Regions from separate parts of the Homo sapiens genome. Here all the other regions are reported to be linked to region 1. The links are microRNA targets in miRTarBase. Many come from high-throughput screens and were not tested one by one. Region 1 holds a microRNA gene; each other region holds the end of a gene's coding sequence.
Evidence for each region. Region 1 holds the annotated microRNA hsa-miR-5047 (UUGCAGCUGCGGUUGUAAGGU, at 2,544-2,564, shown strand). A microRNA usually pairs through its seed, bases 2 to 8, with sites in the 3' UTR of a target mRNA and lowers its output. Matches are read on the target gene's strand: a 7mer-m8 pairs with bases 2 to 8, a 7mer-A1 pairs with bases 2 to 7 and ends in A, and an 8mer does both.

Region 2: miRTarBase lists CPEB3 as a target of hsa-miR-5047. Seed matches in the 3' UTR shown: 7mer-A1 at 2,959-2,965.
Region 3: miRTarBase lists KMT2D as a target of hsa-miR-5047. Seed matches in the 3' UTR shown: 7mer-A1 at 2,871-2,877 and 8mer at 1,268-1,275.

What each region holds. Positions count from the first base shown.
Region 1 is chr17:64,499,662-64,503,793 of GRCh38, reverse strand. It overlaps MIR5047 (microRNA 5047), which reads left to right and starts at 2,481; the gene lies at 2,481-2,580. It overlaps DDX5 (DEAD-box helicase 5), which reads left to right. Exons shown (of 13, transcript NM_004396.5): 6 at 223-364; 7 at 446-606; 8 at 696-868; 9 at 1,245-1,355; 10 at 1,571-1,632; 11 at 1,725-1,784; 12 at 3,021-3,245; 13 at 3,468-4,132. The coding sequence ends at 3,871. MIR3064 (microRNA 3064) reads left to right here and starts at 2,955; the gene lies at 2,955-3,020.
Region 2 is chr10:92,048,573-92,052,572 of GRCh38, forward strand. CPEB3 (cytoplasmic polyadenylation element binding protein 3) reads right to left here. Exons shown (of 10, transcript NM_014912.5): 10 at 1-3,867. The coding sequence ends at 3,640. Among named protein-coding and RNA genes, the nearest start is that of BTAF1, 130 kb to the left of the region's middle.
Region 3 is chr12:49,018,499-49,022,498 of GRCh38, forward strand. KMT2D (lysine methyltransferase 2D) reads right to left here. Exons shown (of 55, transcript NM_003482.4): 53 at 3,782-3,855; 54 at 3,545-3,653; 55 at 480-3,374. The coding sequence ends at 3,282. It overlaps PRKAG1 (protein kinase AMP-activated non-catalytic subunit gamma 1), which reads right to left and starts at 278. Exons shown (of 12, transcript NM_002733.5): 1 at 234-278. The coding sequence starts at 242. DDN-AS1 (DDN and PRKAG1 antisense RNA 1) reads left to right here. Exons shown (of 2, transcript NR_147179.1): 2 at 1-742. RefSeq lists an enhancer at 482-681.

The DNA of each region.
Region 1 (4,132 bases):
TATTTTTAACTTTTTATTAGAAGCATAATGTGTAGATTTTAGACTACATAGCTAAAGATGTAATCATTTGTGGTGGTTTTATATAGAGGTTAGCTCACCCTATTCAGCTGGAGCTGTTTTGGGTATTGGACAACACATGAAGAAAGGATCTGCTAGTATAATAAGTTAGCAGTTTAAAACTAGTATCCAGGTTTGTGCTGAAAGCTGTTTCTCTTTCCTTAGTGTTTGGTGCTGGCACCAACTCGGGAACTGGCCCAACAGGTGCAGCAAGTAGCTGCTGAATATTGTAGAGCATGTCGCTTGAAGTCTACTTGTATCTACGGTGGTGCTCCTAAGGGACCACAAATACGTGATTTGGAGAGAGGTATGTAATGAAAAGGGTTTTATTTGTCATTGGTGCTAAATATCCTAGGTATTGTAGTTACACTTACGTATTTAATTAAAGGTGTGGAAATCTGTATTGCAACACCTGGAAGACTGATTGACTTTTTAGAGTGTGGAAAAACCAATCTGAGAAGAACAACCTACCTTGTCCTTGATGAAGCAGATAGAATGCTTGATATGGGCTTTGAACCCCAAATAAGGAAGATTGTGGATCAAATAAGAGTAAGTGTCCTTTGAAATATGTGATCAAACTGAATTGTGTTTTCACTCTTAAGAGTCTGATACTAATTTTTCCCCCCAAAATCCATTAGCCTGATAGGCAAACTCTAATGTGGAGTGCGACTTGGCCAAAAGAAGTAAGACAGCTTGCTGAAGATTTCCTGAAAGACTATATTCATATAAACATTGGTGCACTTGAACTGAGTGCAAACCACAACATTCTTCAGATTGTGGATGTGTGTCATGACGTAGAAAAGGATGAAAAGTAAGTTTTATTAACTCTGTTATATTTGCTTCCTAACAACTTTGCTGTAAAATTGAGGGATCATTGTTTGGTGAGTTGTTTTAGGTTATTTCAGTTGGTGTGATTTCATTTAGTTAGCCTACTAATCCTGAAAATTTCTTGAATCCTTCAAATAATGGCTGTCACCATTTATAGCTTTCCTATAGAAGGAATTCATGTGTCCCCTGGTTGACTTAAGGACCAAGGGTCGAACTGCTCGATAAGTGGATTAGCAGGCGTTTCCTCTTTGACTTCCAGCCATGTAAATTGAACTTAATGTTTTGCTGACCATAAATGTGTGGCCCTAGCAATGGTCTTTTAAAACTCAGGATTTTTCCTTTCTCTCTCCTATTATTAGACTTATTCGTCTAATGGAAGAGATCATGAGTGAGAAGGAGAATAAAACCATTGTTTTTGTGGAAACCAAAAGAAGATGTGATGAGCTTACCAGAAAAATGAGGAGAGATGGGTATGTGTGAGCTCCTCCATTGAAGCAGATTGATTAAAACAGCTTAGGAAAGGGCAAACTTGGATCACGAGCAGTGGATTTTTTTCATATCTGATAGTGAATTTAACTTTTTCATTTCTGGCGAAATTAAAGAGATCTGTGACCAAAAGTGGTCAAGCACTGGAGTCTGAGGTTTTCAATGTGAGTTTAATAACACAACTTGTCTTTTAACTTAGGTGGCCTGCCATGGGTATCCATGGTGACAAGAGTCAACAAGAGCGTGACTGGGTTCTAAATGGTAAATATTTCAAATGAAGTATTTTTCCCCCTTACTTAACCTAGCTAGAATTCTGCTCAGATAATTGATCATGTATATGCCTTCCTTTGTAGAATTCAAACATGGAAAAGCTCCTATTCTGATTGCTACAGATGTGGCCTCCAGAGGGCTAGGTTAGTACAAACTCGCATTCATGGCTTGGTTTCCCAGAAGATCTCCATTTAACTTTTTTAAAGAAAGTTTATTGCTTTCTTTAACCTGCATTTTTTCTAAGTTTTTTTTCACATAAAGGTGCTGTCTTTGTGGCAAGGCCTAGGCATGACAATCGGAGGACTCGAGGGGGATGGAGGACTAGTGATCGGCTGGCTGCTTCCAGTCGATTAGAGAGGTGAAAAAGCTGAACGTGTGCCAGTAATCTTCAAAAGGCAGAACATATCACCTCTGCCCCGTAAACTGTTCTCTCCGAGGGAAAAAATGGAAGTTATCCTCACAGTTCACTGCCGTGGTATTTCTTCTGTCCCATGCTTTGCATGACTGCCATGGTACAGCCTTGTTTCAAACTGTTCACTGTGATCTGTGGGTCTTTGAGTTTCAGTGAGTTTGCTGAAATGTCGAAGAAGTAGTTCCAAACTTCAATGTTCAATGAAATTTTTGTTCAAGTTTGAAATGGAGAGAGCAGCTTTAAAAGGTACTAAGCCTTTTACAAATTGGTGAGTACTGGCACATGAGATCTAGAGCAGGAGCAACTTCTCACACATAGTAAGTGGGAAAAGAAAGTGCTTTGAAAGTTCCTCCCTCACCTACACAGTAGTCGTCATGTCGAGACCTGCCAGAGAGAGACACATTCTCAAGTGAATCCTGGCTTCTTGGAAGCGCTTGCCTAGACGAGACACAGTGCATAAAAACAACTTTTGGGGGACAGGTATGTTTTCTTGCAGCTGCGGTTGTAAGGTCTTGGCAAGACAAGCAGTGTGGCCAGAATTTTGAACTTCTGATGAATGTGTAATGCAAAGGACCTTGTACATTTTTTTGTTTCAAGGTCCTCAAAATGAGCACATGAAGAGGTTGCTGTGAAACTTTAAGTGGCCCTACTGCGCAGAAGCATTCAGATGTCACTTGATGATCTGTAAGGGAACTTGCTGATTTGGGAATGTGCTTAGGGAACACACATTCCTTTTGACAGGGTCTGTCACTGGGTGGGTGATGAATTATACAGATGACATGTGCTTTTTTTTCTTTTTTCAACCTCAATGGTATTCCTACAGGAAATGGATAACCATTTTAACTGTATTTTTTGCAGCCCGTACCTTCTTGGGAATACAATTGTCTAACTTTTTATTTTTGGTCTGGCTGTTGTGGTGTGCAAAACTCCGTACATTGCTATTTTGCCACACTGCAACACCTTACAGATGTGGAAGATGTGAAATTTGTCATCAATTATGACTACCCTAACTCCTCAGAGGATTATATTCATCGAATTGGAAGAACTGCTCGCAGTACCAAAACAGGCACAGCATACACTTTCTTTACACCTAATAACATAAAGCAAGTGAGCGACCTTATCTCTGTGCTTCGTGAAGCTAATCAAGCAATTAATCCCAAGTTGCTTCAGTTGGTCGAAGACAGAGGTTCAGGTAAGGATGACTGATAGGAAATGTTGGTAGTTACGAGTCACATCGTTGTCTACAAATCCATTTAAATGGTATTGGAGGGTGAGTAAAACCTTGAATGTGAAAACTTAAGCTGAAAAATTGTAAAAACATTTCACGCCTACCATGAATAGATCTGTTTCTTTCTGTCCACAATGATTTGTGTCATAGACATAATTGATCAATTTGCAATTGTTTTCTTGACAGGTCGTTCCAGGGGTAGAGGAGGCATGAAGGATGACCGTCGGGACAGATACTCTGCGGGCAAAAGGGGTGGATTTAATACCTTTAGAGACAGGGAAAATTATGACAGAGGTTACTCTAGCCTGCTTAAAAGAGATTTTGGGGCAAAAACTCAGAATGGTGTTTACAGTGCTGCAAATTACACCAATGGGAGCTTTGGAAGTAATTTTGTGTCTGCTGGTATACAGACCAGTTTTAGGACTGGTAATCCAACAGGGACTTACCAGAATGGTTATGATAGCACTCAGCAATACGGAAGTAATGTTCCAAATATGCACAATGGTATGAACCAACAGGCATATGCATATCCTGCTACTGCAGCTGCACCTATGATTGGTTATCCAATGCCAACAGGATATTCCCAATAAGACTTTAGAAGTATATGTAAATGTCTGTTTTTCATAATTGCTCTTTATATTGTGTGTTATCTGACAAGATAGTTATTTAAGAAACATGGGAATTGCAGAAATGACTGCAGTGCAGCAGTAATTATGGTGCACTTTTTCGCTATTTAAGTTGGATATTTCTCTACATTCCTGAAACAATTTTTAGGTTTTTTTTGTACTAGAAAATGCAGGCAGTGTTTTCACAAAAGTAAATGTACAGTGATTTGAAATACAATAAATGAA
Region 2 (4,000 bases), not on the chromosome of region 1:
CTGTGACATCCCTAGTCTTACACTAAACCACTGTGATAAAGGAAAAGGCTTCTCAAAATCTCACATGTTCTGCTCATTCTGTCATTTTATTACCCAATTATCCATTACATTTCCAATCACTTTACATAACCAAGCATTTTCATCGTTGTCACACTATTGTAAACCACATCAGCAAGTTAATACATAAAGCTTTGCATTTCAAAAAACTAGACACTTTAGTAACAATATTACAAAGGTTTTAGCTTCAAAAATAACTGAAAATGAAAAAAATAAACTTTTAAAGAATTAGCATCATAAAATTAATTTATTCCAATAAAAATACAAAATAATATTATGACATTGACCAGATATGAAAGTCCCTCCCAGAAACAACTCTATTAATGATTGAGAAAGCACTCCTTAAAGAAAATACGAAATAAAATGAAAAATATGTAAATATGTTTAATTTTTTTCTTAGCAAAAAATCTTTCTAAAAATAACAATGAAAATTTGTCTCAGTACAAAGGCTACATTACTATTGAAAAAATACCAGCATGAAGAAAAGGTACATATTTGACAGTAGAAAAATGATTTCAGTGAATCACAATGTCTAAAGTTTGCAATGAAAATAAATCTGCAATAAAGATTTATGCCTTTTTTCTTTTCTTTTTTTTTTCTATTTTTTATACAAACAGTACAAACAGTATTGCACATAACAACAAATAGTCGAGGTTAGGTTATAGCCTTCAAAAAATCGACTAGTTCAAGTGTCACACCAAGGAAAGGCCACAGCAGGACCTGTGTTACCCAGGGGCTTCCCAGTCAAGTTGCAGGTCAGAACACCTCTGTGTTTTAAAAAATAATTTTTTTGAAGGACCCTCTCTTTTAATATAACATTAACAACTTGGGGGCACATTTATTTACAAAACAAAAGGGAACATGTTATAATTTAATAAACTAAAAAAGTTCTCTTTAAAAAAATACAAACAGAAGAACTCTTTCACAATCCTGGTCAGTCGCGCACAATCAACACTTGATTAGAAATATACAAATTAAGGGAAAGTAGTTTCCACCATCTATTCACAACTTTCAGCACCAAATGGAGTTTATTTTTTGTAACCTATTCTTCAGGACAATGTTTTTTGCCTTCACTTTAGCTTTATGCTGTACAATCTTCCAGCTTTTAAAAAAATCTCAGTGTTATTTTAATACATGAAAGAGGGGTGCTTCTTCAAAAAGTTTTGCTTCTTTCACATAATTAGGTAGATTTCTGTAGGTTAGATATGATCTTTAATATTATAGTTATAAAGCTCTAACTTCTTCATTTTCAAAAAACACAAATAAGCATGAAAAAAATAAAGTTACCCATCTGTTAAATCATTTTCTTGCAGAATTAAATTAATATATATTTTTCTGAATAAACTTACTTAGAAAATATCATTTTCTTTCCTATATTTCAAAATTGAGGTATTGCAAAAGATCATGTCAGTCAGAAAGCATGCCTTTTTCCTTAAAAACAAAAAAAAAAATCTGCCAACTTTTGAAAACTGTCTAGAATACAAAAAGTAGTAGTGCATAACAAAATTTCTTGTACAGATGAAAAAAAACCCACAAACATAGAAAAAAACAAACAAAACCACACCTGGGCTGGAAAAAAGCAATTATTACCAAAAAGCCTCAAAAAGGGGAGGATTCTAAAATAAGCATTTTTAATCCAGTAAAAAACTATTTTGTTTTTCCTTTTTGAAAACAAACTATAGCTTGAGAGCCAGTAATTGCAACTAAACATGGGAGAACAAAACAAAAACAAGCAACACTAACTTAAGACAGTACAAGGACATCACAGCACAGAAAACACAGCGACTTAAATCTATTCTGCAGTGTCATATCCAGTCAGATTGTCCCCAGAATTCCAAAACATAGGAAGAAGATTAAAAAAAGATTTACATAGTCTTGCAATCATTGTGTGTGTTTATATATTACTATCTGCAGCCCAAGGGTGAATGCTAGAAAAATGTCCACGCTAGTGCTAGCAGGCCTTCATTCTAGACCACGCTAGTGCTAGCAGGCCTTCATTCTACTCAAGCTTAACAGGATAAATCCAGGGAATTAAGTAGTTAGTTTCTCACTCAGACAACCAACTCTGCCCAGGCCATCTTATTTTGTACAGACATTTCTTTAGCATCACCATTACACAACTTTCTTAAAAATGTGCCTAGTTTGTCAATCTGACAACTTATCTCTATATCCTGTATATATTCTTAGTGTTTGTAAGCTAAGATGAGCTCTTTGGTTTTCTGGACAAGGTCTGAAGCTATGTAAAATGGTGCAAGCACTAAGAGATTGTAACTAAGAGCTCATGTGTTAGTTTATAATATATCAGTTATGAACTGTCAAGTTCATTAATGTCTGACAGAGGCTTTAAACAGTTAAGTTTGATCACAGTTAGACATAATCACTTTACTATATAAAATAAATTTCACAATATATAACAGAGCACCGCAAAGTACTTCATCTACCATCCACAAATTTGCTTGAAGAATATCCTACACCTAGGTTTTATATCGGTTGTAATATAGGTCATTCTGTTATGGGCTCTTCCCATTCAGAGCATTCCATTTATTGAGGCATGCCTTCCTCCGGTCAATTACCAATTCTTTGAATGAAAAAAACTTTTTTTAAAAAATGAGTATTTTTATAGCTTATATAGATTCTTAATTTGTGCATTGTGGGAACGTTTTATACTAGACATTGGATATAAAATTTATTGCATGCAGCAACCTGATTAAGTAAACATGCAGTCAGAAATAGTGACCTTCCACCGAAGCTTTCTGAAGTCTATTCTGATCTCCGTTCGGCAGCTGACTCTATCCCTAAAATCACAAAAGTGTGTTGTTGGGTTTTTGTGTTTAATTGATATCCTAGCCTGAATAGAGTATTATGGTATTAATAATACCATTTTAATAGCAGCAAAAGCTATTGCAGCATAAATTTACATAATACTAAAAGATCTAACCAAAATCCTCGGCAAAACAAAAATCAAACATGAAGGAAAAATAAAAGATCCAGCTTATGAGGTATCCTTACAAGTCAAAATAGAGAGCAACTAAAGGCTTATTTTCATGAAGGGTTATCCTTACTCTAAGTGACCCGAGCTAATGATTGCTGAATTGTTGTGAAGTTTTTGCTACATCTGCCACCTACTCACGAGTATTACCTTTGGTAAGTCTTGTCCTAGGGGCAACTCTCTAAGTTTCTGAAAATAAGTGCATGCTCCAGTTCAAAACAATCAGAACAACACCACAACAACAAACAAAAGAATCACAGACAGTAGCCTGACGGCCGCTGATGAGAATGGCAGTCTACATACTGTCACGAGTGACAAATCAGGTATAAAAAATTAAGGTACCAAGCAGACAAAGGTGTGAATCAAAGTGCAAATCAGTACCATTCTACACTCTGCAATTCTGCATTATACTGGACACTGAGTTCAGTAATATGACTGTAAATAATAATAATAATAATAAAAAGACCCAATTCTTCTTTAAAAATCGAGAACGAATGCACAGATTTCCAGAACACTGTAAGCCCTGAGGCAGTGCCCTCTCTTTTCCCTCCTTGTTATCTACTCCAGTACTTGTGGCTGGGTCGGCCCGTGGCTCAGCTCCAGCGGAACGGGACGTGACGAGGGCGGTCGCCTCCCTCCTTCACCAGCGGTTTGTGGAACTCCCGCCCGGCTCGGGAATGTATGCTCGCCCAGCAGTATTCACAGTAATACTGCAGACAGGTGACGTTGGCACAGAAGAACGGGGCAAACTTCCCACCACAGCGTGTGCCCTGGCACTCATCACACATCTGATCATCCAGCACATATGGCTTTACTTCAACCTGGACCCAAAGAGGAAAGACAGAGAAAAATGATTTAGCAAAGCTTCCTTACATGTCTTGCTTTTGAGAGTTTACACTATAGCTTCAACGTATGTCTCAATCAGACGCTGCTTTCAACTCTGCTGATACTGGA
Region 3 (4,000 bases), not on the chromosome of region 1:
TGCTTGGGCTAAGGGTACCGCGTACGGAAAGGCGGCGGGGACGCGGCCCAGTTCCAGGAGATGCGCCCAACGAAGAAGCGGAGGAACAGGGTCACGGGATAGGGCAGACACCCGGCTGCTTTTTGTTTGCTAGACACCAGCGCCAGCCCCTGCCCGGCCCTCCCGGTCTCCTAAGGGTTGGGGGGGTGTCTTAGGCTCCACAGCGCCCCCGACCGCCCTCCTGCACTCCTCACCGTCTCCATTGCAAGAGGCGCCCGGCTTGGTTTCCTCGCTTTAGGAAACTCTCTTGGGGCAGGCCCCGCCCCACATCCGGTGCGGCGACGCCACTTCCGCCCACGTCATGGCAGTCGCCAGACTGGGGCGGAAGGCAAGGAACCCACCCTTCCGGCGGTGGCGGGCCTCGGTAACCGCCCTCCCCCGGGTCCTCGCGGACCGCACGGATCCGGCTGACGGCGAGGGTCATGGGACGGAGCCGCTTGTATTTAAAATGTTCTTTTTTTATTTGTCGTTTAAAAACAAACTTGGAAGAAGCAAAATCCAAAACTTGCCCTTTGCCTCTCGCAACATAAATATGTACAGTTCAGAATGATCGCTGATACAAAACATGCCAAGGACAGGGGCGCTGAGGGTGGAGGGAGAGAGGGCGCTTTAAAAAAGGGAACCATTTCATCCGTTGTTACGAAGGACCAACCTTGCTGTACAGGATACACACAACACAAAATAAAGTCTTCACGGGATTCACACTTGTCAGCGATTTATTTTTTAAAAAGGGGGAGGGTCCTGGAGGTGAGGGGAGAAGACTGTAAAGGGGAAAACTGAAAACTGAGTATGTGCGAGTGTAAACCAACCCAAAATACAAACACGGGGGCGGGGGGTGGGGTGGGGGATTCTGATGCAATTATACAGGCAGGGTACTTAAAAAAAAAACCAACCAAAATTCCAACCTTGTAGCTTGGGTCTGAGTTATAGTTTATATAAAAATTAAAAACTGTATAAGGTTTCTTCACTAAATTCTACAGGACTATCGGATACCTAGCATATGCTTACAAAGTCTGCCCCATCCCCTTTTCCCAATCCCAGGGCCCAAGCCCCAAACACAGCCTGACTCACGGGAGCCAATCTCCCCCTCCCTGTAGCCTAGACCTTCTGCTCTCGGAAAAGGAACATCCAAGGGCTGTGGCTTTGAGGGCAGCAGCCCAGTCTTCCTACTGTCTGATTTAATTACAGCGGTTCCTGTGGGAGTGGGGGCTGTTATTCTCTTAAACATTTGCAGCTTGAAACAGTTGAGGAAGCAGCTTTAAAAAAAAAAAATCTCCCTACCCCCAACAATCCACAACCCCCCAAATTCAAAACAAAACAAAAACAAACCTAAAATCACAACAGCGACCAAGCTCCCCCTCCAGCAGGCCCGCCCGTCCACCACCACCAAGCCCACCCCTACACTCCAGACATCTGATTCTTGAAAATATTAATTACAAAATGCCCTTTGCCCACAGCCCCTAGAAGAGAACTGCATATAAGCTTCATCTTCATCCCCACGGTTCCCTACCAGAGAGGGGTTTGGGGCCTCACCCACCCCTTACCTACTCCCACCCCCAGGAAGAGGTTCAACTGCAGCACAAGCTTGGGCAGAAAGGGGAAGGAAAGGGAGGCAAGGAACCCATCACCCTCTGGCTCCCCCTGGGGTCAGCTCTCTTTTGTGCGTTATAACATAGTCCAACTATACAACAGGGGGTGGGAATTGCCCAGCCTCTATACCCCCATCTTACAGCAGTCACAGCCAGGGGGTGGGGAGTGGGGTGGGGGGTGAGGAAAAGGGCGGTAGGTCGGGTAATGGAGGGGGCCCCCCCACAAGGGGAGCTCCATGTGTCCGCCCCACACCCCCCTACCATTTATAAACTGGTTTTGTAAAAAGAAAATAGATATATTTATATAGAATATATAAAGCACAAAAATTAGTAGTTTTACATTTGCTCTCCCCGGGGGGTGGGGGGAGAGGGGAGGGTTCTCACCTCCAGCCGGCTCCCCCATGCCCCACAAGACTATGTACAATCCCATGTATAAATAGATAAATACCCCCCACCCTCCCCGCGCTGACACTAAGCTCCCCCACCCCCACATCACCACCCCTTCCCACCAGACCAGCAGCAGTTTGGTGACTGAGGGAAAGTGGGAGCTCCGGGCCACACCCTGCCTCACTAGGTATGGGCATGCCACTCAGGGATAGCCCTCACCCTACCCCCCACCCAACCCGTCCAGGGGCTGGAGGGCAAACAGGCTCATGATGAGGTTGGGAAAACAGGAGGGAGATATCCTGGTCCTAGGTTTAGCTCCCTCCTGCCCCCATGTCCAGATGGAGAAGGAAGTCCTAGAGCAACTAGGGGCCAGTCATCCCCAATCTTCATCATCATTTGCCTCAACCACCATCCCATGCCCATAATTAAAAACAAAGATGGATTTTTTGTTGTTGTTTTTCTTCCTCCTCCTACCCCCCTTCCACCCACTCAGAAGAGGGCAGTGAGGTGGGGGAGAGGGTTGGGGCAGTAGGGGGCTTGGAGAGGGTCTCACATTTCAAAACAGCAAAAAATCCAACACTTAAATGAGGTAGGTGTGGGTGCGGGGTCTCCTTGCCCGGCTTGCCCAGCTTGCCCTCCTAGGCAGCTGGGCGCCTCTTTCCCGTTCATGTTGCATTTGTCAGAGTGGAAAACAAGGAAACACAACCCATAGAGAGACAGAAACACAGAGGAAAAGAGGGAAACAGAGACAGATCAAGAGGGAGGGGGATGGGGGTGAGGGTGGGGGCAGGACCCGGCAGGCAGGGCCAGGTGTGGGACCCGGCCTTTGGGATTGTCAAGCTTAGTCAAGTCTCTTTGCAGCCGTGAGTTGGGCCGGAGAGGTCAGTGGGAGCAGCAGGGCTGTGAGGCCCGGCCACACATCCTCTTCCCCCACCCTGCTGCCTCCCAGATGCTTCTGGGTAGTTCCCGGCCCATATCCCCCTCAAACCTGAGATGCCCAATGGCTGCTTCTGTCTGGCCCCTCCTGGAGCTGGGGGCAGAGATGCCAGCCTGAGGGCCGGTGGTGGGGAAGAGGATTGTCCCTGGTGCCCAGGGTGGGCTTGGCCTAGGGCCCTCTGCCCCAGCCTCCTGCTCCAGGGGCTCCGGGTCAGCCGGCAGCCCCAACCCTGGGTCCTGGCTCTGGCTGCTACCTCTCTTCCCCCTCATCCCTTTCAGGGAAGAGGTTGTGGGTAGGGGGACTCCCCTGCCTGGTAGCCTCAAAGCTTCTTAGTTCATCCATTTCCGACAATTCCAGGCTCCACAGTGGCAGGGGATCTTGTGCTGATCGTCCTCAAAATCAAACTGATAGTCATAGGTTAGCTGAAAAGAGAAGAGGGCAGAATCAATGCTAGTCCCCCACAGGAAGAGGGGAGGCCAGAGAAGATATGATCTGAGGTGCCCAGCCTAGGAATCCACATTTAGGGAATGGCAGAGAAGGGGTGAAAGGAGGAGGAGCTGCTTTGTCACTCAGTCAGGATACTTCCTCTCACCTCCTCTCCTTTGGGGATTCGCCGGCTGGAGATGATGATGATTTTGTCCTCTTTGTCAAATGTCACGACTTCGGCCACACAGTTAGGGGCACAGGAATGGTTAATGTACCTGGGCAGTGGGACAGAGTCAGGGATGTCAGGCAACTAACTTGGGACAATTTTGATTCCTTGTTCGTCTATCCCCCAGAGTGCCACTCTCAGGGACCACTAAATCCCTCCTTCCTCGTCATCTCTCACCTGGCAGGGCCGCCGGTCAACGTAGCATCAATCACATGTTCATTGTTTATTCGGAACATGTAGATGCCTCGATTCTAGAAAGGCAGAGGTTGCAGAAGAAGGGACAAGAGTATCAGAGAGTGGCAGTGGTGGCTGTGGGATCAGGTAGGAGACTCAGGCAGTGGGGGCTTTTGTTGCATGTACTTCATTTCTCCTGCCTTTCCCTTCTCCCCACCACAG